Regions from separate parts of the Homo sapiens genome. Here region 1 is linked to region 2. Evidence: fine-mapped expression QTL. A gene starts in region 2. The other region holds a variant in brackets. All regions are shown on one strand. Distances are between the middles of the regions.

Evidence for each region. PIP is the estimated chance that this variant, and not a neighbour inherited with it, causes the effect.
Region 1: its variant is fine-mapped to the expression of AMZ1 in whole blood (TOPMed, PIP 0.96).

The regions. Positions count from the first base shown.
Region 1 is chr7:2,704,434-2,719,598 of GRCh38, forward strand. AMZ1 (archaelysin family metallopeptidase 1) reads left to right here. Exons shown (of 7, transcript NM_001384743.1): 4 at 4,155-4,283; 5 at 4,642-4,811; 6 at 5,207-5,383; 7 at 7,897-15,165. The coding sequence ends at 8,445. Among named protein-coding and RNA genes, the nearest start is that of AMZ1, 24 kb to the left of the region's middle. RefSeq lists enhancers at 5,111-5,210, 5,130-5,825, 5,971-6,190, 6,201-6,250, 6,891-7,050 and 1 more and silencers at 5,371-5,530, 8,709-8,908. The variant C/T (reference allele first, on the strand shown) is at 5,861.
Region 2 is chr7:2,680,902-2,696,066 of GRCh38, forward strand. AMZ1 (archaelysin family metallopeptidase 1) reads left to right here and starts at 7,301. Exons shown (of 7, transcript NM_001384743.1): 1 at 7,301-7,395. RefSeq lists enhancers at 1-425, 8,000-8,269.

The DNA of each region.
Region 1 (15,165 bases), 24 kb after region 2:
TGCTACTGTATTCCCCTCTATCCTGGGTGACAGAACAAGACCCGATCATTAAAAAAAAATCACAACCCCCATATATTGTGTTCCTAATTTCAGTTGTCATGTTTGTGAGTTCTACAGTTTCCAGTGGATTCTTTTTGAAATTAGCAGTGTCACGCTTTTTTTTTTTTTTTTTTTTTTTTTTAAGACGGAGTCTTGCTGTGTCACCCAGGCTGGAGTGCAGTGGCATGATCTTGGCTCACTGCAAGCTCCGCCTCCTGGGTTCATGCCATTCTCCTGCGTCAGCCTCCCGAGTAGCTGGGCCTACAGGCGCCCAGTACTGTGCCTGGCTATTTTTTTGCATATTTAGTAGAGACGGGGTTTCACCGTGTTAGCCAGGATGATCTCGATCTCCTGACCTGGTGATCTGCCTGCCTCGGTCTCCCAAAGTGCTGGGATTACAGGTGTGAGCCACTGCGCCCGGCCCAGTGTCACATTTTTATAGGTCTCAGTTGCCTATGACACTTCTTTAAGTTCAGCATTGATGTCCATGAACATAGTTGCTTGACCGTCTGTCCGATGATTACACTATCTGGAGTGCCCATGTGCCTGTATTTGTTATTTCTGCTAATTTTGTCTCAGTTATCCTGCTTCATTGTGCCTTGTTATTTTTGATTGTTAGTTACGCATCTTATTGGAAAAATTAGTTTAACTTTGAGAATTTTTGGCCTGGGCCGATGTTTTTCACCATAGAGGATTTTCTTTTCCTTCTGCCAGGCACCAAAGGGCTGACTGTGGGACAAAGACATGAAGCTTTTCTGGGTCATTCTGATGGTCCCCAGGGCTCCGCATCCCTCCCAGGGCAGGAAGCATGTCAGGGTCATCCTGCCCACTCCCCCACCCCAGAAACAGTCCAGCTTCATCTGTTTGAGCTCCAGTCCTCCCCGTTTTTCTCATTAGGTCTCTGCCTTGGTTATTGAGGTATAATTTAGATAGTAAAATTCATCCTTTTTAGTGTAAGGTTCTGAGTCTTGACACACGCATACATCACGTGGCCATCACCATAATCATATAGAGGGCGGCTCTCTACCCCTCTACCGGCCACCAAACCTTTCTCCTTAATCCACTCCTCCCCATCGTGGGTGTTGGAAGCAGCTGTTCTTTATCATTCACTCTGCCTGTCTGGCCATCTTTTGGCGGGAGGGTTGTCTAAATTCCCTAGGGTACTGTTACAGGGAGCAGCCACTGTTGAGATTTGGGGGTTGATAGGGGTCCCCTGGCTGGGGTGGGGTGCCATCCCCTGGGTGGCATGTTTCTTTGTCCTGGCCTGCTTTCTGGGTACAGCCTACACTCCACAGGCTTCCCCAGCCCCTGAGGTCCTACAGTGGGGTCTGGGGACAATGTGGCCTGCCTTGGCCCTGGCCCTAAAACACAGCCGGGGACCCCGTGCCTCTCAGGCTTGGCCTCTGCAGCCTCAGCTCTCCTCACCTCCCCCACGCCGTACACGGTGCGTCTCACCTGTTATGGCCTCTGACCTGTTGGTGCCAGGCCTGTGGCAGCTCAGAGACAGCACCAAGTCCCACAAGGGTCACTCCAGGGCTTTCCACCCCCTCTGCTTAGTGGACAAACTGCTGTTTTCCCCAGCCCCACACTTCAGAAGGTGCACGGGGGAGCCCTCGGGAAAAGGACATGCACTCGGGAAGGTTCAAAAGCAGGTGGAACTCAGAGGGTATGCCAGGTTGCATTTGTGGGGTCAGCTCAGCCTGGTTTTTAATTTTTTTTTAGAGATGGGGTCTTGCTTTGTGACCCAGGCTCAAGCGCAGTGGTGCGATCATAGCTCCCTGCAGCCTTGAACTCCTGGGCTCCTCTGCCTCAGCCTCCCAAGTAGCTGGGACCGCAGACACGTGCCATCACACCTGGCTAATTATTTTGATTGTTGTAGAGATGGGGTCCTGCCATCTTGCCCAGAGAGTAGCATGCTTTGGATCACTGTACTGGTTTCCTGGGACTGCCGTAACAAAGTACCACAAACTGAGTGGCTTAGGGACATTTCTTGTCTCACATCGCTGGAGCCTGCAGTTCTTAACCAAGGTTTTGGCAGGGCCACGTGGTCTCAGAAGGCTCCGTGGAGGGTGCTTCCTGGCTGCCTCCAGCTTCTGGAAGTTGCTGGCAATGCCCAGCCCTCTGTGGCTTCCAGATGCACAACTCCAACCTCAGCCTTTGACTTCCCGTGAGCTTTACGCCATGTGCCTCTGCGTCTCTTCTAAGACTCCAGTCACTGGGTCTCCTTCATGACCTCATCTTAACTGGATTACATCTGCACAGATCCTGTTTCCAAACAATGGCAGGTTCCGGGGGTTAGGACTTCCACCTGTCTTTTTGGGGGACATAGCCTGATCCACAACAATCATCACTGTCAATCATCATCACCTCATTAGCATCATTGTCAATCAATTACCCAGCTGCTCAGGAGGCCGAGGCAGGAAGATTGCTTGAGCCCAGGAGGTGGAGACTGCAGCGTGAGCTGTGATTGTACTCCAGCCTGGGTGACAGAATGGGATGTTATCTCAAAAACAAACACAGGGCCAGCTGTGGTGGGTCATGCCTGTAATCCCAGCACTTTGGGAGACCGAGGCAGACGGATCACGAGGGTAGGAGTTTGAGACCAGCTTGACTAACATGGTGAAATCTCCTTTCTACTAAAAATACAAAAATTAGCTGGGTGTGATGGCACGTGCCTGTAATCCCTGCTACTCAGGAAGCTGAGGCAGGAGAATGGCTTGAACCTGGGAGGCGGAGGTTACAGTGAACTGAGATAGATAGCGCCACTACACTGCAGCCTGGGCAACAAAGCAACACTCCATCTCAAAAAAAAAAAACAAAAAAACACACACACACAGAACAACCTCCTTGTCAATCTGTTCCTTTTAATGGTAGAACTCCTTGGAAAACACTTCTCCGGTGTGCCTCTGTGCCGCAACCCCTCTTCTCTACACTAACTCTGAGACCCTCTCCGGGTTTCCTGGGCCCGTGGTGGCTGCTCTGCCCCCTTCCCTCCCTGGGCTTCTGGTTTCCCGGCTTTGATGCCATCGTGCCCAGGTTCAGCCCCTGGGCCTCTCCTGTATCTGTCCACACTCATGCTCCGGGGAACCATGCTAACAAGTTACACAACTTGCTAGCTTGGATGACCCACTGTGATCTCACAGTGCTGTGGGTCAGGAGCGCCCCCACTGCCCAGGCTAAAGTCAAGGGTTGGCTCCAGGAAACTCCAGGGAGAATCCATTTCCTGCCCTTTCCAGCTTCTAGAGGCACCCGTATCCTTGGCTAATGGTCCTTCCTCCGAGCCAGCCCTGCAGTGCCCTCAGGCCTCACGTTCTCACCCAGACCCCCTGCTGCCTCTAACGAGGGCTTTTTTTTTTTTTTTTTTTTTTTGAGATGGAGTCTGGCTCTGTTGCCCAGGCTAGAGGGCAGTGGCGTGATGTCAGCTCATTGCCACCTCTACCTCCTGGGTTCAAGCAATTCTCCCGTCTCAGACTCCTGAGTAGTTGGGATTACAGGCACGCACCACCAGGCCCGGCTCATTTTGTATTTTTAGTAGAGATGGGGTTTTGTCATGTTGGCCAGGCTGGTCTCGAACTCCTGACCTCAGGTGATCTGCCCATCTTGGCCTCCCGAGTTGCTGGCATCACAGGTGTGAGCCACTGTGCCCGGCCTTACCGAGGGTTCTTGTGATGGCATCAGGCTCAGCTGGCTGCTGCAGAAAAACGCCTCCATCCCAAGATCTTTAATCATCTGCAGCCCCTTTGGCTGTGGGGACTCACAGGTCCCAGGGCTGAGACGTGGACTCTCTGGGGCTGTCGCTCAGCTGCTGAGGTGGCTTCTCCTTCCTGGGGCTGCAAGCGCCAGTCTTGTTGGCCCGGCTGCCTCTCCAGCGTCCCCACTGGGCTGTCCATGGCCTTTGACTTACCATGTCCTGATCTCCAAATGGCCCTGGCTGTCACTCCACATCATGCAGTACTGTGTGCCCTCAGGTCACACCAAACGCTGGTGGCCCACACCTGACTTGGGAAGGGGCAGGGCCCAGGCAGAGGAAGAGGATGACGGGGTGCCAGCCTGAGCCTGGAAGATGGGGGTCCCCGGCTGCCTCCTGACCCCATCCTCTGGCCCTCTCCCCGCAGACGGCATCCTGTCCTTCTTGAAGAACAACAAGCCAGGGGACGCGCTGTGTGTGCTGGGCCTCACACTGTCTGACCTGTACCCCCATGAGGCCTGGAGCTTCACCTTCAGCAAGTTCCTTCCAGGGCACGGTGAGCCGGGGCCCCAGCAGCTGTGCGTGGGGGGTAGCCTGGCATGGGGCTGTGGCCTCCGTGGCTGCAGGGCACCCTCTTTGCTTTTGCTTCAAGCACCCTCCTGGTGGAAGTCAACACCTGTGCATGGGAATAGATGGCCCCTTCCAGCTCCTCCTGAGGAATGGCATAGGGGCTGTTCCTCAGCTGTGGCGTCTGCCCCAGGGCCCAACTTCATGTGGGCAGGACAGGGCCTCCCAGGACTGGTATGTCTTTGGGCCATGGCCAGCTTGCATGAGAGCATGAGGTGGGTTTGACGGTGGGCCCCCCAGAGCCAAGGCTGACCCCTGAGAGTGCCCTTCTCTCCATCTCTCTCCAGAAGTGGGCGTCTGCAGCTTCGCCCGGTTCTCAGGGGAATTCCCGAAGTCGGGGCCCAGCGCCCCTGATCTGGCCCTGGTAGAGGCAGCAGCAGACGGCCCCGAGGCCCCCCTGCAGGACAGGGGCTGGGCCCTGTGCTTCAGTGCCCTGGGGATGGTTCAGTGCTGCAAGGTGGGTGGGGGCTCTGGGGCTGGTAAGAGGGGACAGGAGGGTGCTGTCTGAGCCCTTGGTGCCTCGGTCTGTTACACTGCCCCATCCTCACAGTGAAGTGGATGGACCCCTAACTCTATGGAATGAGGAAAGCAAGGCTACACAGCTATGAAGCAGCAGGGGAGGGATTAGAGCCCCAAGCCCCTATCCTGTGTGGCCTCCCACCCTGACTCACCTTTCCCCTGGGGCCCTGAAAGTGGCCTGTGCCGCCTGGGGCAGGGGGAGGGCGCCTGGACCACCTCCCGGCCATCTGGCCTCACCCAGGTCCTCATTTTGGTCCTGCTGGGGCTGCCTGGGGATCTGCCGGATGCAGGGGCAAGGCAGTGAGGCAAGGTGCTTGGTGGCCTTCCCCCCAGGTCACGTGCCACGAGCTCTGCCACCTTCTGGGCCTGGGGAACTGCCGCTGGCTCCGCTGCCTCATGCAGGGTGCGCTCAGCCTGGACGAGGCCCTGCGGCGGCCCCTGGACCTCTGTCCCATCTGCCTGAGGAAGCTGCAGCATGTCCTGGGTTTCAGGCTCATCGAGAGGTACCAGGTGAGTGGCTGAGTTGCGCTGCCCGGCTGCTGGGACCTGCGCTCCGGAGGCCCGCGAGCGCCGCCTGGAGGCTACGCAGGGCATGGGGACCGCACACAGGCTTTGTCAACTGCCGGGTTCCAGGCAGTGCAGAGCCCTGGGACCTGCGCTGGGGTTGAGCTCCATCCGGATCTCACTGGCAGTAGATCGAGTCCTGCCAGGGCCCGCGTGTGGTGGCTGTGACTGGGAGGTTGCAGCGGGGTCGAGTGGGGACGAGGGCTTTTCTCCCTCTGTCAGGAAGAGCTGGCATTGGAGCCCAGCCGGCGGGTGGCACGGTCTTCCCAGGGTAACTTTCTCTTTGCTTTCCCGTCACCCACACTTGGGTCACTGCTGCTCAGAGGAGGCACAGGCCCCTTGCGAGGAGGTGGGAGCTGACACAACAAGGCTTGTTGGAGGTGGCCTCCATTCCTAACTCCCTCTGTCGCCTGGGTGGGGTTG[C/T]CGAGCAAAGGGCTCGTCCGTATTCATGGACATTTGTTTGCAAGCTCAAAAGCTTTACTCTGAGTTCTGAGTGCAAAGGCAGGTGGTGGTAATTTTTCTTCAAACCCAGCTTTGGACTACAACCAGTTATAAGGTGCTCACTGCGTACAGGCACCAGAGCAGTCAATGAAACCGCGCTGGAAAGCCCCTGCATCCTCCTCCCGCCCGTTGAGGCAAGTGGGGGTGTGGTTCCCGGACCGAGCCTGTCAGAATCCCCTGCAGGGCCTAGCTGGGCCCTCCTTCCTTCTGGGGTAGAGTGAGGAGCTGTATCTTGCAGGGTCCTGGGTGACACTGAACTAGAGGCCGTGGCATTTCTAGCTCACAGTGCTGGAATCTCTCTGCAGGGATCCTCTCTGAAGACTCTGGCAGTCAAGGGAAGGTGAAGGGGGCACAGAGGAAACAGCTTTTCCAAGTGTAAGGAGAAGAGCCTGTGACTTGGGGGGAACCCAGGCGCAGCCATGGCTGAGGGTAGGAGCATCTCCCGAGGGTACAGGTGGCGTGATGGCTGGTCAGCACCTGGTGATGCCTTGTAAAGGTTGCTGCTGCCAGCTGTGCCCCGTCAAGGGGCAGCTCTTAGTACCTTCCTGAGGCTGTGTAACAGGCACAGGGGCAGCTTGGTCTGCAGAAAGGGTTGAGAGCTCTCATTTGATGCCTTCACCTGGGGTCTTGTGCAACCATCTGACATGAACTTTTAGAAAGTGTATGCCCCTCCCTACACGTGCTGACCTGGCATAGCCTGGATCCACCTGGATCTGAGCTGGAGGGTGTAGCTCCTCCTCCTGCCCAGAGCTCTCTCCGTTCCGTGAGCACCATCTCCTGAGGCTGTGGAGGGAAGAGGGCCAGGGCAAAGGCACTCCAGGGTGGCCTGGCCCTCCTGGCTGTTGTAGGGAGGGCAGTGGTGTGGATGTGAGGTCACCTGCTGTCCCAGGGCTTGGGGAGGTGCTGGAGAGCTGACCAAGGGCCTGGCCAGAAAAGGTCACTGCTGTCCACTGACAGCAATCAGTGAAATGCCTCTTGAAGAAAGCCTGACTTGTTGTGGTCTCTGCCACTTCCTGTGGTGTAAACAGTCTCACGATGGCTGATGTGAGCTCCCAATGTGATGTCAGTGAGTGCTGAGTTGGGAACAGATGTGCAGTGGGACCTTGTTAAACTGTGTGTCCCCTGTACAGATGCAGGAGAGGAGACTAACCTTGAGAGCAGAGGTGAGAGTGAAATGGAGAAAACATTTAGGAAGTGAGTTTCAAGTACTGCCTTTGCTTTACATTTTTTTCCCCCTGGTGGTCTCACTATGTTGCCCAGGCTGGTCTTGAACTCCTGGTTTCAAGTGATCCTCCTGCCTCTGCCTCCCTGTGCTGGGATTACAAGCGTGAGCCACCATGCCCACACCTTTGCTTTAAAATTTTAAATTTTATTTAATTATACGCTTTCTGGGTGGGTGCCGTGGCTCACACCTGTAATCCCAGCACTTTGGGAGGCGGAGGTGGGTGGGTCATCTGAGGTCAGGAGTTTGAGACCAGCCTGGCTAACATGGTGAAACCCCGTCTCCACTAAAAAATGTAAAAATTAGCCAGGCATGCTGGCAGGAACCTGTAAAATCCCTGCTACTCAGGAGGCCAACGCAGGAGAATTGCTTGAACCTGGGAGGGGGAGGTTGCAGTGAGCTGAGATCGCAGCACTGCACTCCAGCCTGGCCAACAGAGTGAGCCTCTGTCTTAAAAAAATCGAAAAATGTTAAGTGTTCTAACTTTGGATGACAAGGAGCTTGCGAAGTTCCTGAATGGTGAGCTCTTGGGGGTGGGTACCTCTGACTCTGGCACAGCCTGGACATGAGTCCTCAAAGGGTGCTGGTCACAAGAGCCCTCACACCACCAGCCTGACTCCCGCCCCTGGGTAACTGAGGACGGTGGGGTCCCCTTAGGTAAGGAGGTCTCCTGGCAGTTCCCTGGCTAGACAAGGGCTGGCACGGAGCAAACTCAGCCTGTGTTTCTCCCTCTTAGAGACTCTACACCTGGACTCAGGCGGTGGTGGGGACGTGGCCCAGCCAGGAGGCGGGGGAGCCGTCAGTGTGGGAGGACACCCCGCCTGCCAGCGCCGACTCGGGCATGTGCTGTGAGAGTGACTCGGAGCCCGGCACCAGTGTGTCGGAGCCCCTCACCCCTGATGCCGGGAGTCACACCTTCGCCTCGGGGCCAGAGGAAGGGCTGAGCTACCTGGCAGCCTCAGAGGCTCCGCTGCCACCTGGGGGCCCTGCGGAGGCCATCAAGGAGCATGAACGGTGGCTGGCCATGTGCATCCAGGCCCTGCAGCGGGAAGTGGCAGAGGAGGACCTGGTGCAGGTGGACAGAGCCGTGGACGCCCTCGACCGCTGGGAGATGTTCACGGGCCAGCTCCCGGCCACCAGGCAGGACCCACCCAGCAGCAGGGACAGCGTGGGGCTGCGCAAGGTGCTGGGGGACAAGTTCTCCTCCCTGAGGAGGAAGCTGAGTGCCCGAAAACTCGCCAGAGCAGAGTCGGCCCCCCGTCCCTGGGATGGGGAAGAGAGTTAGTACAGCAGGGGCTGCCCTACGTCTCCTTCCCTAAGGATGCTGGCCAGCACTGTCCAGTAGCTGAGGCCACTACTGACCTGCCAGGGATAAAGAGGAAGGGTCTGCCTGGGTGGTGGCTCAGGCCTGTCATCCCATCACTTTGAGAGGCCAGGAGTTTGAGACCAGACTGGGCAACATGGTGAGACTCTGCCTCTACAAAAGAAAAATTAAAAAATTAGCTGGATGAAGTGGTTCATGCCTGTGTTCCCAGCTATTCAGGAGGCTGAGGTGGGAGGATTGCTTGAGCCTAGGAGGTCGAGGCTGCAGTGGGATGTGATCATACCACTGTACTGCAGTCTGGGCCACACAGAAAGACTGTCTCCAGAAAAAAAAAAGTTCTTTGGAGAAGCCACAGACCACCTGTCTTCAGGCGCCTCCTTCAACTCCTGAGTCCCAGCCAGCCGCTCCCAGGGGCCTGCACACATGGAGAGGCCTCCCTGATCCTGGGTGCTTCTCGTGGAGTACAAGCCGGACTGTGCTGAGGTTGGGACAGAGCCCCCTCCCCTGCAGAGGCAGAAGGAAGCAGCGTGCGTCCTGTCTCCTTCCAGGCTGTGGGCCTGCCCTTCAGTTATTTATAGCTGGAGCTGGAGAGGCTGGCTCAGATGAGGAGTGACCCCGGGGGCACACAGGCTCCACACTGCCACCCAGCTTCCAAGGCTGAGTCTCCTCCCTAACGGGGAAGTGACGGGGTTTTGTCTCTATCATCTCAGGCGTCAACCACATGCACACACACACTGTCACGTTCTGTGGCGCTAACAGCATCCTGATCCTGACGGACTTCACCGGGGCTCTCCAGGCATCTCTTCTGACAAACACTGCAGGAGGTGAGGGTGTCTGACGTGCACTGAGGGCAGAGGCCCCCTTATTCCTGAGGCGGCTACAGCTCACCGTGGGGAAGATCAACTGTGGTGATGTTTTTGGGACAGTTTCTTGGCAAAGGTGGCCGCGCTGTCAGTACCAAGTAGCTGGAGGTGGTGATCAGATGATCTGTCTTTCCTTTTTTTTTCGGTCTAGTTCTGTCAGTTGCTGAGAGAGGGGTATTATTGCCATGGCTGGGCGTTTGATCTGTCTCCCTTTAGTTTTGCCGGATTTTGCTTCCTGCACTTTGAAGCTCCTTTACGTCCCTGCACATTTGATTGTTGTGTCTTCCTGAGGAATTGACCCTTTTATTGTCACACGTACCCCCTCAGCCTGTGGTGGAGGGTCTCTGGGAGAGAGACTTCCGGTTCTGACAGCGGAATCCCTTCGGAGTGACGAGGGCGGGGTCACAGCTCGCGCACCCTCATCTGGAGAGAGGCAAGAACAGGGCAGCTTGGACCTTTTGTGGGTGGGTGGCTCACACGGTTATGGAGGGCTTCTAAGAAAAACAAAATACAAAACTAAAACTAGAAGGGCTATGCAGGTGAGGTGGGCTGAGGCTTCCTTGTGAATCTGACATTGGTGGAGGCCGACTGAAGGCTCCCGGTCCTGGTCCCACTCCGTGTTGACTTCAGAGAAGCAAAGATGCAGCTCAGAAGTAGCATTAGGATCTTCGTCCCGTTCTCTTTTGCGTAGCTTCAAAAAGGCGTAACAGTGACCTGGGAGGGGAGATGAAGAGCTAGGCCTTTCAGAAAGTGACCAATGGAAGGTGCCGGCAGAGCACCCTGCAGTAACAGAAGGTGAAAGCCGGAGCCTGGTGGCTGTTGCTGCAAACAACCACCCAAAACTTAGTGGCTTAAAATCACCACAGTCTAGCTCATGAATCTGTAACTTGGGCAGAGCTCGGTGGAGACGGTTTGCCCCTGTGGCTCGACTGGAGTGTTCGTTCACACGGCTGCCAAGTGGAATTTGGCTGGGAATCTCAGGCCTTGGTTCCTGCCCACGTGAGACTCTCCATGGAGGAGGGGCATCTTCTTAGGAAGGCAGCTGCCATACCGTGAGGAAACCCGACAAACAGGGCAGCCAGAGCCAGACAGCAGGCTCCTGGTCCCAGTCCCGGAAAATGCAAAGGGACAAGTATGTGTTGATTTCAGAGAAGCTCAGATGTAGCATTAGGACCTTCATCCATACCCTTCTCTTTTGCATGGCTTCTAAAGGGCATGACAGTGACCTGGGAGGTAACTGTGCCAGAATAAAGAGGGGAGACGAAAAAAAGAGGGTCACTTTCAGAAAGGGACCTGGGCTTCCTCACAATATGGCGGTTGCCCTCCTAAGGTGGACATCGGGAGGGTCAGATGGAAGCTCTGTGGCCTTTCCTAACTCGGCCTCACGTCACAGAGCGTCACCTTTCCTGCACTCCACGGCGGCAGTGACAAGGACCCCACCCCAGGTTCACGGGGAGGGGACGTGGCAGGGAATGTGAGACAACACAATATTGCTGTGGCCATTCATGAACAGTCAGTCAGCCCCACTCGGCGTTCACTGTGGGGATTTGGCTGGTGCACCTGCGAGGTGGCCTGACCTGTTTTCCGATTTCCTTCATCTTCTGCAAAAGGTTAACCGCTGGAGTGATGCGAGATTAAACAGAGGTGATAAAAATAGAATGCCTGGCTCATGCTGAGGGTGGGAGCCCACTGGGGTTATGACCAAAGCCTCGGCGCTCTCTGTACCCGTGTCCTTTGACCCTCAGCTGTGATGTGTGTCCCAAAAAAGCGTTTTGAAGTGGGAAGGAGCAAACCACTAAAAAAAACTCCTTTTATCCGCAGCGTTTACCAACTTGCAGATGTCAGTGAAATTTTTTAAGACAGCTGTTAGAAGGACTGTTTTGAAATGCAACTTTGAGGAAGAGAAATTGGTTTCCCTCCTCTCCCCCGTGTTAGCCCCAGGTTCTGTCTGTGCTGTGGTGAAGAGTGACTTGGGACAGTCACCAGGAAAGACGCAAGGCAGAGGAGAGAGAATGAGGGCTGCCTTCTCGAGGAAGGTCACAGCTCACGAATCTTTCTAAACTTAAGTGCTGCAGAAGTTGAACTGAGATTAAATTTAGAGATGATGGTTTCCAAGACACACAGGGCCACGGTTCTTTCAGTTTTTAAACACGTGCAAAGTCCACTGAATTGCTTTCTCGTCTCATCTGTCAGAAGCCCCTGCATTCACAAGGATGGGTCTTCCAGCTTGACGATGACCTCTCTTCGGAGAGCCTCACCCATCTTGGTAAGCCAAGTCAGCGGGGCCTCATGGAGCTAAAAATAGTTTCAGGTCATGACAGATGTTATCTGTATTGCTGTGTGTGCGATGAGTCTGGGGAAGCTAACACATGCCTTCTGAAGTGGCTAGAATACACACTCCCACGTCACAGCCATGCTATGATGAAGGGGTGAGAAGCAGTGTCCCCTCTGAGGCAAATCTCTCTTCAGGCAGCCCCGCAGTCCTCTTCCGAAATCTCATTCTTTTCCCTCTCTTCCTCCCCAAAAAGCCCAAACTCATTGTCAGAGTGGGGAGAGGGGAGAAGCAGCATCCTGACTCCTGTCCATGGTGTGAACCCTGAGGGCACGGGACAGTGAGTGGAGCTCTGCCACCACCCGTTTCCAGAGCATGGGTGAGGAGGGAGGGATGCCGACCTGTTAATATTTGCTTCAGACCTTTCCCCGATGAACGAAATCTCCAAAAGCCTTAAACATAAAATGGCTTAGTCAAGCACGAGTGATAAAGCTGGGAGTCCAAATTTAGATCCCACCAAGTTCAAAGGGGGAGGCTAGAACATTCCAGGGACACACCTACACGCAGAGGGTCTCCATACAGTGCCAAGGGAGCTGCTCTGCAGACCCACCAGGCAGGGACGGCCAGGCCTCGGAGAGAGGGACCGGCTGCCCTGCCCAAGGCCCACCTGGACAGGCAAGTCTTCCCTAGTGGGTCAGTCAACTCCACCGCTTAAGGGGTCCTTCCTATGTAACGGAATTTTTTTACATCATCATCGAGTCTCGAAATGACCTGTAAGGCAGATGGCTGCATCCCCACCATATGGCTGTGGCTGTCGAGATGGGACTGGGAAGGGCTGGAGCCTCAGAAACGGCAGAGCGGAAGTTGAGGCGCAGTCTGTTCTTGCTTGAACCCCGAGTTCTCCCGCTGTTGTGCAGCTTTCTAAAAGCAAGCTGGAGCGGTCTGAGCAGGAAGAGAGTAAGAAGGCGCACGGACGCGGGAGGCCTGCACCCTGATCCCTGAGCAGCCCCCACACACCGGCACCCACGCCCCTCGGTTCTGATAACCAGGAGGCTTTCTGGCCCGTGCAGCTCCTTCGGACTCTGAGGAGAGGCCTGGGTGGGTGGCCGGCACTCTTAGGTGAGGTGCCAACGAAAACACCCCCGTGATTGCTGGGGCTTCACTGATTTGTTTTGTTTATAAAAGGAGGGCGAGGCCTGCACAGGAATATTTTTATCCCCGTGAAGACGGAGAGAATCAGGGCTTCGCGACGGGGCTCATAGACCTGAACTGGGTCTGCCTGCCTGTGTGCTGGAAGCAAACGACGGCCCGTCCTCTAAGCTGGCTTTGCAGCTCCAGTAAGAGTGAGAGACTCACGGGGGCCTGGCTGCCGTCCTGGGAGAGGCCCCGGGAACCGGCTCGCCCTGTACCCAAGGGCTCTCTGGAGCTCACCCCGCACGCAGGCTGCTCCAGAGCTGAAATCTAGCTGTGATCCCTGTGGGGCAACTGCACACAGAGGTGCCCAGTTTCAAGGAAACCTAAAGCAGCAGCAAATTTATGGCTCTTGGAACACGAGGCTGTCAAAGATAAACACCGCAGGGTAATCTAGGAAACACTTCCGGCTTGACTGTAAAGAGCCCTGGCCTGCGAACGCTGTTAAAAACAGATGCAGATCGCGGGTGGAGACGGCCGGCCGAGCCTTCCCTTTTCTGACATCCTACAGCAGCACCTTGATGAATGAGAACCCGGAAGAATGGAGGTTTATTTTTGAACTCAGCTTCTTGGGTAGGGAGGCAAATGAAAACAGGCTGATGTCAGGGGTTTATTTTAAAAAGCAATTTCCAAGAAGCGTCCTGGGGTCACCACGCGTTCAGTCCAACTCTTCCCCGCTGCAGTGTTCCCGTGACGATGAGGCAAATCCAAATAGTCACCGGAGTCGAGCAAACACGGCGGCCCCTGCCTCCCCCGGCGGCTCCACAATGGCCCTCAGAGGGTCCGCGGCAGCCAGGCCCGTCCAACCTCCTGCCCTCTCTGAGAGGGGCCCGAGCTCTCGCAAGATTAACCAGAGACGACACCTACCAGATTCCACCACTGAGGCCTCCCTCGATGCCTGCTCCCTGGGCTTTTTAATGAACGCACTTCTGTCACATGGAAACTGAGCCCGGCATGGAGTCACGTGGCTCCACCCTGGGGCTCCTCTGATGCCGAGAGCTCTGGCTCTCCTGACTGTGGGCCCAGTGTCCATTTTCTCTCTCAGGCAGGGTGCTCTGCCCGCCACAGTGTGCCTGGTTTTCTGGATACAGCATGACTGAACCGCCCCTTCTCAGCAAAGGCCAACACGTCTTTCTCGAGTCCAAGACCATCTCCCGTTCAAGGGCCCTCACCGCGCTTTGTGAGTCTGTCTCGTGGGCCTCCTTCAGTGGTCTGTGACCAGCGGGAATGAATGGGGACGTGTTTTGTTCAGCCCTGACTCTTGGACGCTGGTGGCAGCCGCGGGCGCCCACTCACCTGGCACGTGGACGAAGGTGATGAGCGCGGCTGACGGCTCCCGGGGGCAGTGTGGGGTCCAGTCTGAAGCCGACGCCCCTCTCGGTCAGGCTTTCAGCAGCAGAAGGCAGTGGACTCTTCACCATTTCTTCCAACACTTTCTCACGTAGGAGCTCCACTGTCCCTTCTAACAGGACAGGGCTTGTGCAGCCGGGCTTGGTCTTGTGGTCAGGGAGAAGCGGGCAGGCCAGGGCCGAGCTGCGTCCGGCTCTCAGGGACTTCCTCTCCCTGTGCTCTGCCCACCTGGGGTAGGCCTCTGGGAACAGGGGAGTCACAGAAACCACGGGAAACGGAGTGGGTTGGAAGAGGCAGAGAACACGCTTTTCTCAGGGTCGCTTAACACAGGCAGGGGTACAGGAGAGCTCCGGCCATTTATTCCAAATGTATGAGCAGGAAGGAAAGAGGGAGGGAAGCTGCAAGAACAGGCGACTTTTTTTTTTTTTTTTCCCCCCCATCTGAAGTGAGATCAAACTTCTACCACATTCTACCTGTGCCCTTCTGGGTGGGTGGTGGCCGTCCTCTTGGGCGCCCCCTTGTGAGGGCTCGAGGCCTTTACTGGATGGGCAGGATGCGGGCAGCAGCTTTGTCGGCTGCCAACCCAACTCCTCCGACAGAACGGCAGGTGGCCCCTGTCGGAAGGGGGGTGTCTCTTTATTCCTGCCATCCTCCGGCCGCCTCTCCCGCCTGCACCACTTGGAGGCAGTTGTTTCACGTGGGGCTCTTGATGGCATAACCTGATGTCTGTCACGGACCCCCAAGCAGGAGCAATGCCTAAAGAGGGCAAAGGCCCGCGCGCCTGGCAGAGCTCCCTCCTCTGCTCCAACAGCAGAGCCCAGAGCATCCCTTGGCCCGACGCACAAGTCCCACAATAGCCTCTCCCAACGGGAACGACTTAGCCCTAATTACATGAGCTTTGATCACCGCTCGATTGTATGGCACAGTTATTTTTAAAAATCCAGTCCAAGTGGAAATACACCTGGAACATTTTATACTGCAATGACTGATGGACGACTTTGATAT
Region 2 (15,165 bases):
CCTGGGTAGGCGCCTGGCCAAGTCACCAGACACCAGGCCTTCGGGATCCCCGCATCCACCAATGGGGTACTGACCCACAGGCGCCGGGCAGGGCGGCCTCCAGGTCAGAAACCTTCCAGGACGCTGAGCACCGACTGTTTGCTTCCCTGCCCACGGATGCCCCCTCGTGGCCAATCCCATCCATCTTAGAACTACGTTTCAGAGTTGAGGATGCAGGGCTGGAGCGGGGCCATGGCTGAGCTCGGTGCCACTCAGGCCCGAAAGCCCCAAGTCAGCCTGGCTAGCGTGCGCCTGGCCATGGGCATCATCAACACAGCTTTTGTTATTCATTATTATTTTTTGAGACGGGGTCTCACTCTTGCCCAGGCTGGAGTGCAGTGGTGCAATCATGGCTCACTGCAGCCTTGACCTCCCCGGCCTCTGGTGATCCTCCCACCTCAGCCTCCTAGGTGCATGCCACCACGCCCTCAGGTGATCCTCCCATCTCAGCCTCCCAGGTGCATGCCACCACGCCCGGCTAATTTTTTTTTAATTTTTGTAGAGATGGGGGTGTCTTGCTATCCTGCCCAGGCTGCTCTCAAACTCCAGGGCTCGAGAGATCCATCCGCCTTGCCCTCTCAAAGTGCTGGGATTACAGGCATGAGCCACGGTGCCCAGCCAAGCCTTTGTTATTCTTGTTGTTGGGGTCCAACTGTGGGGGCTGTGGGGAAGTCTGCAGACAGCTCAGAGTCAAGACAGACCCCGACAGGGACAGGTGGTGCAGGGAGATGTCATTGGAGATTCGTCCCCACGTGCCTGGTCCGTGTGTCTTTTCCTGCTGGAGAAACTACATGTGGGGTTACTCCTGGGGCCCCTGACTACACACAGCATGAGAGGGTAGGAGACAGGGATGGAGGGAGGAGGGAGATGGTGACAGAGAGAGAGACCAAGAACCCCAAGAGACAGAGACAGACAGACAGAGATAGAAACTCAGAGAGACAGACAGACAGACAGAGAGATGGACAGGCGGCCCCTCCCTCCCAGTCCCCCAGCCTTGCTGAGCCCATGGGAGCCCAAACAGCGGAGGAGGGGTCCTGGGGGAGCGGGCTAAGGGCCCCAGTTTATGTGCTGGGGCTGTCACTTTGCACTGAGCGCGCCCCCAGCTCCAGCCGCTCTGGCTGCTCTCTGGAGGGAACAAGGGCTTTCAGAGCTGGGGACCCGACGTGAATACTAATCCAGAAGCTCAAAGGGCGGCCTCACAGGCTGGGCACAGGGAGGCTGGGCCGGGGCCAGGGCCAGCTGAGCCTGTCTGGGAGCTCGCCCTGCTTGGCCTCCCCCCGCTCTTCGTGCTGGGGAGCTCCTGTCCTCCCCTCAGGCCTGAGAGGGTCCCCAGCTACCCCAGGACAGGGTGGGGGGTGGGAACTGCAGCTCCAGGAGTCAGGGTCTCGTGTCCAGCATGAGATGACACCGGGTGGGCCCCCAGCACACAGTCCCTTGAAGAATGGCTGCCCAGGAGGCCTCAGGCCGATGCGAGGGTCCTTAGCTTTGCTTTGCATTCCTACAGTGCTCCAGCGACAGCTCCAGGGAGGCCTGGGGAAACGGAGGCACGGGCACGGAGCCCATGGCAGGGAAGAGGGCTTGACTGTACTCTGTGCTAGGACACCCCAAGTCCCGCAGGCAGTGCTGGGGTCAGGCCCCGTGCATCCTGCCTGGACCAGGATTCAGACCCCTTTGCCTCCTTCCTGGACGTCACCTACTGCACCCAGGAGACCTCAGTGTCGGGCCATGGAAACCCCTGCTTGGGCCATACACGGCTCCCCTGCTTGTGTTCCGAGCCCCTTCACCCCCCAGCCCCTGGCCCTCAGCAACCCCCCTCCCCAGATGCGGCCTCATCTCTTCTCCAGCTTTTCTGACCCTGCCCCACTTCCTGCACCCATCTTTGCCCAGATCCCTGCAGGCATTCTGTACAGGGAGGCCTGTGCTCGCACGGTTCCTTCCACCTGGCACACCCCCATCTCTGCCGTTGACCCGGGCTCATCTTGCTGTGCGGTGAAGCCAGCCTCAGAGCCGTCCTCCTCTGTCCCCACAGCACTGTCTGCCTGCACCCTCGCCTGCTGGCCTTGGAGCAGGGCTGAGCTGCAGAGAGGCCAAGCCCCTGTTCTGTGGCTCGAGTTTGCTGGGTGAGCAGCTGCTGCTTCCCAGGACTCCTTGTGCCAATGCCCCGGGAGAGTTTTCCTCTTCCTTATAAAACCCGTGTGAAGCATTTTCCTGTTTTCCAATGTGGATGAGTTTCCTGCGGCTGCCGTGACAAATGACCACAGCTGTGCGGCTTCAAACAGCACACATTCACTGTCAATTCTGGAGGGCAGTGGTCTGAAGTCAAGGCTGGGGCAGGGCCGAACTTCTGCAGAGGGCTCCAGGGGAAGGTCCTTCCTGCCTCTTCCTGCTTCTGGGGGCTCCAGGTGTCCTTGGCTTGTGGCTGCACCACTCCCATCTCCGTCTTCTCCTCTGTGTCTCTGTGTCTTCAACTTTCTGTTTTTTTGTTTGTTTGTTTGTTTTTGTTTTTGTTTTTTTTGAGACAGAGTCTGGCTCTGTCACCCAGGCTGGAGTGCAGTGGCACGATCTCGGCTCACTGCAAGCTCCGCCTCCCAGGTTCACACCATTCTCCTGCCTCAGACTCCCGAGTAGCTGGGACTACAGGTGCCTGCCACCACGCCTGGCTAATTTTTTTATATTTTTAATAGAGACGGGGTTTCACCGTGTTAGCCAGGATGGTCTCGATCTCCTGACCTCGTGATCCGCCTGCCTTGGCCTCCCAAAGTGCTGGGATTAGAGACGCGAGCCACCGCGCCCAGCTCTGTCTGTTTTTTACAATATTTTGTAGAGATGCTGCCCAGGCTGGTCTCCAACTCCTGGGCTCAAGTGATCCTCCCACCTCGGCTTCCCAAAGTGTTGGAGATTACAGGCGTGAGCCACCTCACCCAGCCTCTTTCTCTCTCTTTTTAAAAAATTGTTGGCTGGGTGTAGTGGCTCATGCCTATAATCCCAGCACTTTGGGAGGCCGAGGCGGGTGGATCACTTGAGGTCAGGAGTTTAAGACCAGCCTGGCCAACACAGTGAAACCCCATCTCTACTAAAAATACAAAAATTAGCTGGGCTTGGTGGCACGCGCCTATAATCCCAGCTACTCAGGAGGCTGAAGCAGGAGAATCGCTTGAACCTGGGAGGCAGAGGTTGCAGTGAGCCAAGATCACGCCACTGCACTCCAGCCCGGGTGACAGAGCGAGACTCCATCTCAAAAAAAAAAATTGTCATTATTTTTTACATTGTCTTGTTCCTCCAATGAGGAACCTCTTTCTGTCTCTTACAAAGTCACTTGCATTGGATTTAGGGCCCACCCTGACTCTGACCCAGGATGACCTCATCTTGAGATCCTTACTTTAACCATATCTGCAACGACTCGGTTTCCAAATAAGGTCCCATTCTGATGGTGCAAGTAGGCACATTTTTGGGAGCCGCTATGTAACCCACCCTGGGGAAACTGAGGCAGGGCAAGGTGAAGCAGCTTCCCCAGGCCACACAGTTCTCTTTTAACCCCAAGTCGGCCTGGGTCAGAGGATGGTGATGGGGTCAAAGTTGGGGGCGGCCCCCTTTGTTCATCACTGAAAGGACAGGGGTCCCCATATCACGGCCTCTTTCTAGAATAGACTCTGACGAGGTAGCTTCAACCAGAAAGGGGTGTGCAGTCTGCCGGTGGGAGACCAGCGTGTCCCGGGTGCAGTGTGGACAGGGCGTTGGCTGAGTGAAGCCTTGGCTGGCAGGGGCCAGGTCATCAGCAGGCTGCCTCTGTGTTTCGGGGGTCCTGGCACTGGGCATGGCGCCACCCAACTTGGGGCACCCAGGAGGGGCCCTACTCATCTGGGCTTCCAGTCTCCCGGGCTGACCCAACAGACAGAGGAGGAACTGCCACTCTGGGCTTGACACATAATTGCTTTTTTTTTTTTTTTTTTTGAGACGGAGTCTCTGTCGCCCAGGCTGGAGTGCAGTGGCGCGATCTCAGCTCACTGCAAGCTCCGCCTCCCAGGTTCACGCCATTCTCCTGCCTCAGCCTCCTGAGTAGCTGGGACTACAGGCGCCCGCCACCACGCCCGGCTAATTTTTTGTATCTTTAGTAAAGATGGAGTTTCACTGTGTTAGCCAGGATGGTCTTGATCTTCTGACCTCGTGATCCGCCCGCCTCGGCCTCCCAAAGTGCTGGGATTACAGGTTGAGCCGCCGCGCCCGGCCTCGATGCATAATTTCCTTTCCGGTGGCTATTCAGGGAGGGGCGTGGGGGTTGGGGGGAGGATATTCCACAACTTCTTTGTAATAAGCAGCTTTAGGACAGAACATTCAGGCCAGGCTCGGTGGCTCACGCCTGTAATCCCAGCAATTTGGGAGGCCAAGGCGGGTGGATCACTTGAAGTCAGGAGTTCGAGACCAGCCTGGCCAACAGGGTGAAGCCCTGTCCTTCCTAAAAATACAAAAATTAGCCGGGCGAGGTGACGGGCACCTGTAATCGCAGCTACTTGGGTGGCTGAGGCAGGAGAATCGCTTGAACCCAGGAAGTGGAGTTTGCAGTGAGCCGAGATCGCGCCACTTGTACTCCAGCTCTGGGCAACAGAGTGAGACTCCGTCTCAAAAAAAAAAAAAGGCCGGGTGCGGTGGCTCATGCCTGTAATCCCAGCACTTTGGGAGGCCGTGGCAGGCGGATCACGAGGTCAGGAGATCGAGACCATCCTGGCCAACATGGTGAAACCCCATCTCTACTAAAAACACAAAAATTAGCTAGGCATGATGGCAGGCGCCTGTAGTCCCAGCTACTTAGGAGGCTGAGGCAGGAGAATGGTGTGAACCCGGGAGGTGGAGCTTGCAGTGAGCCGAGATCACGCCACTGCACTCCAGCCTGAGTGACAGAGCGAGACTCCGTCTCAAGAAAAAAAAAAAAAAAAAAAAAAGAACATTCATCTTTTCTCAGGTTCTGGGTTCTCCATCCCCAACAGAAATAACCTGGAAAATCCCTGCGGCAACACGTGTGAAGAAGTGCAGCTTTCTGAGTCACAATCTATTTGTAGGAATTTATCCCAAGGTGAGGGGGACCAGATACCTGTACAAAGATCTGTGGAAACAAGATCGTCTATCACAGTGATATATGCTAGTGAGACACCAGGAGAAACCAAAATATCCCAAAGCAGGTGACAGATCCATGACACGGAGTCCAGCGCAGACCATCAGGGTGTGGAGACGGACTTTTGGCTATTGATGAGTGTGAAGTCACGGGCCGCCTGCAGAACGCAGTATGTGACGTGAATCCCTTAAAATATGTATTTAGGCTGGGCACGGTGGCTCATACCTGTGATCTCAACATTTTGGGAGGCCGAGCTGGGAGGGTTGTTTGAGCCCAGGAGTTTGAGACCAGCTTGAGCAACATAGCGAGATCCCATCTCTACATAAAAGTTTCAAAATTAGCCAGGTGTGATGGCACGTACCTGTAGTCTCAGCTACTCAGGAGGCTGAGGGAGGAGGATTGCTGGAGTCTAGGAGGTCGAGGCTACAGTGACTCGCGTTTATACCAGTGCATTCTAGCTTGGGCAATAGAGCAAGATCCTGTCTCAAAAAAAACTTTTTAAAAATACATTTCAATGTGGAGGAGAAGGCGATCAGAAGGATGTCTGACAAGAAGGTGAGAGAGGTTACCTCTACACAGTTGGCTTATGGGGTCTTCTTTTTGTTTTTATTTTTCATAATTTTCCAAATTTTGCACACCGGACACCTAGTGTTGTGTTGTTTTTCTCTCTCTCTCTTTTTTTTTTGAAACAAAGTCTTGCTTTGTCACCCAGGCTGGAGTGCAGTGGCATAATCTCGGCTCACTGCAACCTCCGCCTCCCGGGTTCAAGTGATTCTCCTGCTTCAGCCTCCCGAGTAGCTGGGACTATAGGCACCAGCCACCACGCCCAGCTAATTTTTTTATTTTTAATAGAGACGGGGTTTGACCATACTGGCCAGGCCGGTCTTGAACTCCTGACCTTGTGATCTGTCTGCCTCAGCCTCCCAAAGTGCTGGGATTACAGGCATGAGCCACCACGCCCAGCCGTGTTATTTCTTAAGGCTTAAAAAAATTCTTTGAGGCTGGGTGTGGTGGCTCACGCCTGTACTCCCAGCACTTTGAGAGGCTGAGGCGGGTGTATCATGAGGTCAAGAGTTTGATACCAGCCTGGCCAAGAAGGTGAAACCCCATCTCTATTAAAAATACAAAAATTAGCTGGACACAATGATGGGTACCTATAATCCCCACTACTCAGGCGGCTGAGGCAGAAGAATGACTTGAACCCCGGAGGTGGAGGTTGCAGTGAGCCCAGATTGCACCATTACACTCCAGCCTGGGCGACAGAGCGAGACTCCATCTAAAAAAAAAAAAAAATTCTTTGCACTGGTGTGGGACGATGGTGACGAATCCCTCAGCCATCTGTGGGGCGCTGCTGAGGGCGTGGGGGGCATTTCTGCACGGTGAAGCAGAGCTGGTGGGAGGCTGCCCGAGGGAAGCTGGTGCTGGGAGGGTTTGCAGAGAGGAAAAGGGCAGTTTATGGAAAAGGCCTCTGGGCTCTGTCTGGAGCCGTCATGCCGGCCTTCACGGCATCCTTCCGCACTTAGAGTCCTTTCCATCTCCTGGTGGCTGGCACAGGGCCAGGGCTGCACTCACAGCTGGCCAGGGTAGGGCAGGGCGCCCGTCCTCAGGGCCACTGACTGTAGGGCTAACCTAGGGGCCTGGTTCACCCCTCTCACCTGGGGCTTCGCTGATAAGCCTGGTTCACCTCCTCACCTGGTGGCCTCGTTCACCCCCTCACCTGGCGCCTTGCCTGATAGCCTGGTTCACCCCTCTCACCTGGGGCCTCTCCTGGTGGCCTGGTTCCCCTTCCTCACCTCGTGGCGCTGGTTCACCCCTCTCACCTGGGGCCTTAACTGGTGGCCTGGTTCACCTCTTCACCTGGCGCCTTGCAGAGTAGCCGGGTTTACTCCTCTCACCTGGGGAGGCACGAACTGGCCCGGGCTGACTGACCTCCCTCACCTGTTTGGCTTTAGGCTCTGGGGCCCCCCTGCCCGGGTGTTTCTGGGAGGCTGGAGGGTCCCACGTGAGCTCCACCGCGGGCAGCTGGAGGGAGTGGGGCAGGACGCTGAGCGCCGGGAGGGGTGTGGCCCTCCTGTCCTGCCCGCGGCCCCACACCGGCCCCAGTCCCGCCCGCCTCGGTCCCTGCCCCGCGCGCCGACGTCACCGGGACCTCCCGATCCTCCCGGCCCAGGCCGAGCTGCCCACGCTGCTGCCCGGGGCTCGGTGCCCGGCGCGGCCTCTGCCGGCTCCGGCGGGCGCGGGACTGCGAGGTAGGGGGGCGCGCGGGGAAGACTCGGGGGCGCAGGGACCGAGAGGGACCTCCGTGCCGGGGCGGGTGGGTAGGGGCAGCTCCGGGTCCAGCCCGGCCCGCGCACCAAGTCCCGAGGGCGCCCGGGCGGCGGCGGCTACGGGCGCGCGGGGACCGCGGAGACGCGAAGGGCGCACTTGGCGAGGGTTTGGTGCAGCGCCGCGCCGGGGTCCGCACAGCCCCGGCAGGTCCTGCAGAGGGAAGGCCGGGCCAGGGAAGGGCCACGCGCCCCCTCCCCGCCATCCTCTCCCAGGCCAGGGCGACCTGCGCGCTTCCCGATGGGAGCAAACTGGGGACGGGTCGGGAATCCAGGGCCAAGCGCCCGAAAGAAGGCGTTTCCGGGCTGGGGCGAGCCAGGTGGGTGCGGGACGTCCCCGGGGAACCTCCAGGGCGCCGAGAATCTCGTCGTGCCCAGGGCTCCCCGCAGCCTGTGTATGAGCCGGGGAGGGAGAAGGCTTCCTCCCCCAGGAGACTGAGGGAGAAGGCTGTGGATATGATCCCTGCAGGGATGTAAGACAGGTCTCAAAACCAGAAAAGCAAGGGAGGGGTGACAGAGAAATGGCAAACTTTACAAAGGACAGGGGAGGGCAGGGACCTGGGTCCTTTCTGCCCCCATCACGGGAGGGAAACACTTGGCAGAGGAGTTTGGGGTTCGCAGGTGAGGAGAGAGAACAGGAAGCCAAGAGTCTGGCCCGGAGGCCACTACCCCTGCGGTCTAAGCCCCCGGTTTTCCCTCCTAGCGAATGGAAACTGAGAGGTGAGAAACCCCCAAAACCATCCGTCCGTCTGGTTCTGCCTGAAGGTCTCCGCTGTCAGCTAATGAATAGCTCGATGCAGCTGCTGGGAGGTTTTGCAAAGCGCATTCAGAATAGCGAGAATCAGAGCATGGTTTCTTGCCCAAAGGCCAGGCATCTGCGTGGTCAGATGGGGGAGCATGAGTGCCCGGAGCTGTGCGGTTTAGGGCAGCCTGACCTTGGATACCTGGTTACTGGGCCAGTCTGGCGGCCCTTGTTGCTTAGAGCGGCAGAACCTCCCTGGGGGGGGGATGCGGACGTGCTCTTTTCCAGTCTTTGGACAAAAAAAGGCAAGGGGAGGAGGAAGGAGAAGCGTCTGAGTTTACCCATGGTATTAATAGCAGCAGGGCTGGAACTCGGGTGCTCTGGGAGAGGAGACGTCCTACCCCCTGTCCCCGTCAGAACATCCCTGCTCCAGGAGCAGCTGGGGTTCCAGTGTGAAGCGTGGCTTTGAAACCAGGCCCCGCTGGCCCCCAGCTGTGTCGCCAGGGCCAAGTCACTTAACGTCTGAGCCTCAGTTTCCCCACCTGAAACACCGCAGTGGCACCTGCGGCTCCGTGTGTGGCTTGGAGGACGCAGGCATGAGACCTGTTGGCTGCTGTCATGACTGCAGTTAGCAGAGGAGGGGGACACACTGTGACAGGGTCCAAAGGACAGCGAGAAACCTCCATCTGGGGGTCTCCTTTTTGGAGCATGGATGGGTTGGTGAGTGCCAGAGGGTGCTGCGAAGCTGACCCCCACTAAGGCGGCTCCCTCCCCGTGGGTACCCCCAGGGCTCACATGCAGCTCTGGCTCTATGTGAGGAGTGGTCTTGTGCAGAAATGACCTGGCAGGATGGAAGGACTCAGCTGGCAGCTGACAGTGGGGACCGGGGTTTTCCTGAATGACCCACGAAGACGAATGTGGCCACAAGGCTTCTTGAGAGGAAATAGTATGTGGGCAGACGTCATGCCCTGGATGCCCGAGAGCTGTACCCGTGTTAAGGGATGGAGGGAGCTAAGCGTTCTCATTCCTAGCTTGGAGCCTGTCACACCATTCTCCAGTCTGCACTAGGAGGTGGCTGTGTTTTTGTGTGTGTGTGAGAGAGAGAGAGAGACAGACAGACAGACAGACAGGGTCTTGCTCTGTCTTCCAGGCTGGAATGCAGTGATGCAATCATAGCTCACCACAGCCTCGACCTCCAGGGCGAAAGCAATCCTCCCATCTCAGCCTCCCTAGTAGCTGGGACCACAGGCATGCACAACCATGCCCAGCTAATTTTTAAAATGTTTTGTAGAGACGGGGTTTTGCCATATTTCCCCAGGCTGGTCTCAAACTCCTGGACTCAAGCGATTGTCCCGGGAGGTGGCTATTTTTAGAGCTTGCCTCTCACATCCTGTTGATCTTCCAGCCGGGCTAGTCTGGAGCTGGCGTGGCCACTCCTTCCCGGGCGGCTCAGGTTGGCTGAAGGTGGTGTTGTGTCTCTGGCTGGGTTTCCGATGTAGATGCTCTTGAGTTACCCACGTGCCCGCCACTGCTTGCGGGTGTGCAAACGGCCTCTGTGGTCGTGGCTCCTCTGTGCGTGTGCTCTGGTCCCCTGCAAAACTTGTCGCTGTGGCCCTTCCTGTTGCTCCCATTCGGTCCTCCCTGAATAACTTAGATGGGCCTGAGGTTGGCAGTTTGGGCCCAAGTCACACCTGGAACCAATGTGGTAGGGCTTGTGAACTTTTGGTAAAAAGAAGGCATTTCTCAGCCGGGTGTGGTGGCTCACCTCTGAAATCCCAGTGCTTTGGGAGGCCGAGGCAGGCAGACCACTTGAGGCCAGGAGTTCGATACTAGCCTGGCCAACATGGTGAAACCCTGTCTCTACTAAAGATAACAAAATTAGCCTGGCATGGTGGCATGCGTCTGTAGTCCCAGCTACTAGGGAGGCTGAGGCATGAGAATCGCTTGAACCCTGGAGGAGAAGGAGGTTGCAGTGAGCTGAGATTGTGCCACTGCACTCCAGCCTGGGTGACAGAGGCAAAAAAAAAAAAAAAAAAAGCATTTCTCATTTCCTGATGCTTTGCCTGGAGTAGGAGGGTTTGCTGGCAGGGAAGCCTCTGACCAGGGTTTTCGGGTGGTCAGGTGGGTGTGGGTGCTGGCAGGAAAGCCCCCTCAAGAGTAGGGGAAGGTCCGTGTGTGAGGACTGGAGTCAGGGGTCTCTGTGCTGGGAGTCAAGATCCAGGTGAGCTGTGTAACCCTGGGCAAGTGGCTTTCCCTCTCTGAGCCTCAGTCTCCTGGGTTATGACATGGGTGAATCTCAGGATGGCTTTGGAGGTCGGACAAGGTGTTGCATCAGAAAGTGATTTTGGGCCGGGCGCGGTGGCTCACACATATAATCCCAGCACTTCGGGAGGCCGAGGCGGGTGGATCACAAGGTCAGGAGTCTGAGAACAGCTTGGCCAATATGGTGAAACCTCGTTTCTACTAAAAATACAAAAATAAGCTGGGTGTGGTCGTGAGCGCCTGCAGTCCCAGCTGTTCGGGAGGCTCAGGCAGTGAACCCAGGAGGCGGAGGTTGCAGTGAGCCGAGATTGCGCCACTGCACTCTAACCTGGGTGACAGAGCAAGGCTCCGTCTCAAAAAAAAAAAAAAAAAATAAGTGATTTTGGGGCTTTGCAGGGTGGCAGGCACCGGAAGGGGAATGTTGATCAGGGCTGGTCCAGGGTGCCCGCAGGTATTGCTATCTGTTTTACCATGTCATTCTCTGGAAAGCTGGGACACAGACCATCCTGGGCATCTGGAAGGCCCTGGGCTGCTCCAGAGAAATAATTGATAGGCCCCTGTGGACAGAACAAATAATTCTGAGCTGGCTGCGGCGCTAGGGGAATGATTTGGAGGTAACTGGGAGGTTATGGTGCTTGCCCCTTGTGGGCGGCAGTGCTGGTGAGTGGAAGGTCTGGGAGCGAGAAGCCGGTGAGCAGGTCATGTCACCGGTACCCAGAAACTACAAAAATAAGCTGGTGAGTCTCCTGTGGCGTCGGGTGCTCCGAGGCCGGCTAAGTGCCTCCTCCTCCTACTTGGGCCAGCCAGGCTCCTGGAGGAAGACAGGTGGGACCACACCCATCTCACAGGGAGGACACAGTGGGGTTGAAAGAGGACCGAGCTTGGCCGGGCGTGGTGGCTCACGCCTGTAATCCCAACACTCTGGGAGGCCGAGGCGGGCGGATCATGAGGTCAGGAGATCGAGACCATCCTGGCTAACACGTGAAACCCCATCTCTACTAAAAATACAAAAAAAAATTAGCCGGGTGTGGTGGCGGGCGCCTTTAGTCCCAGCTATTCGGGAGGCTGAGGCAGGAGAATCGCTTTAACCCGGGAAGCGGAGGTTGCAGTGAGCCGAGATTGTGCCACTGCACTCCAGCCTGGGTGATAGAGTGAGGCTCCATCTCAAAAAATAAAAAATAAATAAAGAGGACCAAGCTCATGCCAGAGCCCTCGGAGTTGTTGAGGGCATTCCAGCTTCAGGGGTTTCCTGGGCGCCTCTTCCGTAGCGAGGTCCCCAGGAGTCCCCGAGGGGACTCTGAGAGGTTGCAGGGGGTGCTGCCTCCACACGCTGACACCTGGCATGGCTAGGGCAGGAGTACCCCACCCCTTGGCCACAAGCCCAGCAGCGGTTCCCCACCTCACCCAGAGCAAAGGTTAAAGCTCTTCCAACAGCCTCCCGGCTCCTGCGCGATGTGTCCCCATCTTCCCCCAATCTCGTCCCCTGTTCTTTCCCCCAATTTGTTCCAGCCACACTGGCCTCCTCCGGCTGTCCCCTGAGCCCCCAGACGTATCTGCTGCGGGCCTGTGTACACCCACCTCTGTCTGGGACGGTCTGCCCCTCCTCCCCGCTGCCTCCTTGCTCAGAGATCCCACCTCAATGGAGCCCACTGTGATCACCCTCTCAGGAATGGGAGTGTGGGCCTGGCACGCCTGAGCCCTGCCCCGCTCTGTAGGGGGGTGTTTGTTTGTTTGTTTGTTTTGAGATGGAGTTTTTGCTGTTGTTGCCCAGGCCGGAGTGCAGTGGCGCGATTTCGGCTCACCGCAACCTCCGCCTCCCGAGTTTAAGCAATTCTTCTGAGTAGCTGGGATTACAGGCATGCGCCACCACGCCCAGCTAATATTGTATTTTTAGGAGAGATGGGGTTTCTCCATGTTGGTCAGGCTGGTCTTGAACTCCTGACCTCAGGTGATTGCCCGCCTCCCAAGGTGCTGGGATTACAGGTGTGAGCCACCGTGCCTGGTTGGTGGGATTGTTGTTGTTGGACACAGGGTCTTGCTGTCATCCAGGCTGGAGTGCAGTGGTGCGATCACAGCTCACTGCAGCCTTGGACTCCTGGGCTGGAGACTTCCTCCGACCTCAGCCTCTCGAGTAACTAGGACCACAGATGTGTGCCACCACACCCAGCTAATTTTTGTTTTGTTTTGTTTTGTTTTTTGACACGGAGTCTTGCTCTGTGGCCCAGACTGGAGTGCAGTGGCGCGATCTCCGCTCACTGCAAGCTCCGCCTCCCGGGTTCACTCCATTCTCCAGCCTCAGCCTCCAGAGTAGCTAGGACTATAGGCGCCCGCCACCACGCCTGGCTAATTTTTTGTATTTTTAGTAGAGACAGGGTTTCACCGTGTTAGCCAGGATTGTCTTGATCTCCTGACCTCCTGATCCGCTCGCCTCGGCCTCCCAAAGTGCTGAGAATGCAGGCATGGGCCACTGCAGCCAGCCAGCCTTTTCTTTTTCCAACAGGACCTGTCACCTTCTAACCTACCTTCTATGCTATTTACTTAGCACTTTTGCCACCTGCCTTCCTGCTGGAGCACCTAACTCCATGGGGCCAGGGACCTCTGTTTTGTCCACTCATGTTGGAAAACCCCCAGCACAGGGCCCAGCACCCAGGAAGCCCTTGGCAGCTAATGTCACTGTCATGAGTCCGCTGAACTGGGCCACAGGGTGCCTGATGCAACACCGTTCCTGGGCGTGTCTGTGAGGGTGCTCGAGATGACATTAGGATTAGGACAGTGGGTTCAGGAAGGTGGACTGCCCTCCCCAAGTGGCTGGGCACCTTCCAATCCCTCCAGACCCTGAATAGAACAGACGGCAGAGGGAGGAGGAGTTCACCCCTCATTTCCTGCCTCGCCGCTGGAGCTGGGACATGTCATCCTCTCTTGCCCCGGGACTGGATGTCCACCATCGGCTGCCCTGGTTCTCAGGCCTTCGGACATGAGCTGAGTTTGAATCACGCCTTGGGCTTCCCTGGGTCTCTGGCTTGTAGGCAGCACACTGTAGGACTTCTCAGCTTCTGAGGCCTGTGAGCCAATTCTCATAATAAATCCTTATTTTATTTTCATAGAGTAGAGATGAGGTCTATGTTGCCCAGGCTGGCCTTGGCCGCCCCTGCTCAAGTGATCCTTCTGCCTCCCGAAGTACTGGGATTACAGGTGTGAGCCACCGTACCTGGTCATAATCCTATAAATATACATGTGAGATTATATTACATTAATATATTATCGTATATATTAAAATCTCATATATATAATATATATTTTATTTATTTTTTTTTTGAGATGGAGTCTCGCTCTGTCACTCAGGCTGGAGTGCAGTGGCGCGATCTCAGCTCACTGCAACCTCTGTCTCCTGGATTCAAGCGATTCTCCTGCCTCAGCCTCCCGAGTAGCTGGGATTACAGGCATGTGCCACCACGCCTGGCTAATTTTTGTACTTTTAGTAGAGACAGGGTTTCACCATGTTGGCCAGGCTGGTCTCGAACTCCTGACCTCGAGTGATCCGCCTGCCTCGACCTCCCAAGGTGCTGGGATTCCAGGCGTGAGCCATCGCGTCCGGCCTATTATTTTATATATATTGGATAAATGAATGAACCCGTGCGTTCACCTGCCCTGGGACCCGCCTGGCCTCTTTTGGAACCACTGATCGTGCATCTCAGCTGCTTCTGGCTGACTTGGGTCTGTCCTCACGGCTCCTCCTTGCTCAGCCTCTGGCCCCGCTGCAAGACTTGCCCACTACGGCCCTTTCCATGGCCACAGGATCTGGTCCTGTCCATCGTCTGTGCATCTGATGTTTCTTTCTTCCTTTATGGTCCAGAGGCGGGAATTCCACCCTGGTGTGAACCTGCCAGGACTGCCCTGTGCACTCCAGGAGTCCAGGAGTGAGACCCACGCTGGAGTCTGGTGGTGGGCATGCGGGTCTGGGCACAGGCTCGGTCTGCATAGAACCCACGTGGTCCCAGCAAGGTGGGGCCCTGCTTCCCATGGTGATGGGAACCATGATGCTTGAAAATCTGCATGTTCAGGCCCATGTGGTGGCTCAGGCTTATAATCTCAGCACTTTGGGAGGCCCATAAGGGAGGATTGCTTGAGCCTCGGAGTTCAAGACCAGCCTGGGCAACATAGTGAGACTCTTCTCTACAAAAAAAAAAATTGACTGGGCGTGTTGGTACATGTCCGTAGTCTCAGCTACTCAGGAGGCCAAGGCAGGAGGACTGCTTGAGCCCAGGAGTTGGAGGCTGCAGTGAGCTGAGTGCACCACAGCACTCCAGCCTGGGCAAAACAGGGAGATCCTGTCTCATTTAAAAAAGAAAAAAAGGCCGGGCGCAGTGGCTCATGCCTATAATCCCAGCACTTTGGGAGGCCAAGGCAGGTAGATCACATGAGGTCAGGAGTTCGAGACCAGCCTGACTAACATGGTGAAACCCCGTCTCTACTAAAAATACAAAATTAGCCGGGCGTGGTGGCGGGCACCTGTAGTCCCAGCTACTCGGGAGGCTGAGGCAGGAGAATCGCTTGAACCCGGAGGCGGAGGTTGCAGTGAGCTGAGATAGTGCCATTGGACTCCAGCCTGGGTGACAGAGCGAAACTGTCTTGGGGGGGAAAAAAAAAAAAAAAAGGAAATGGACATAACTATTATTAGAAAACAAAATCTG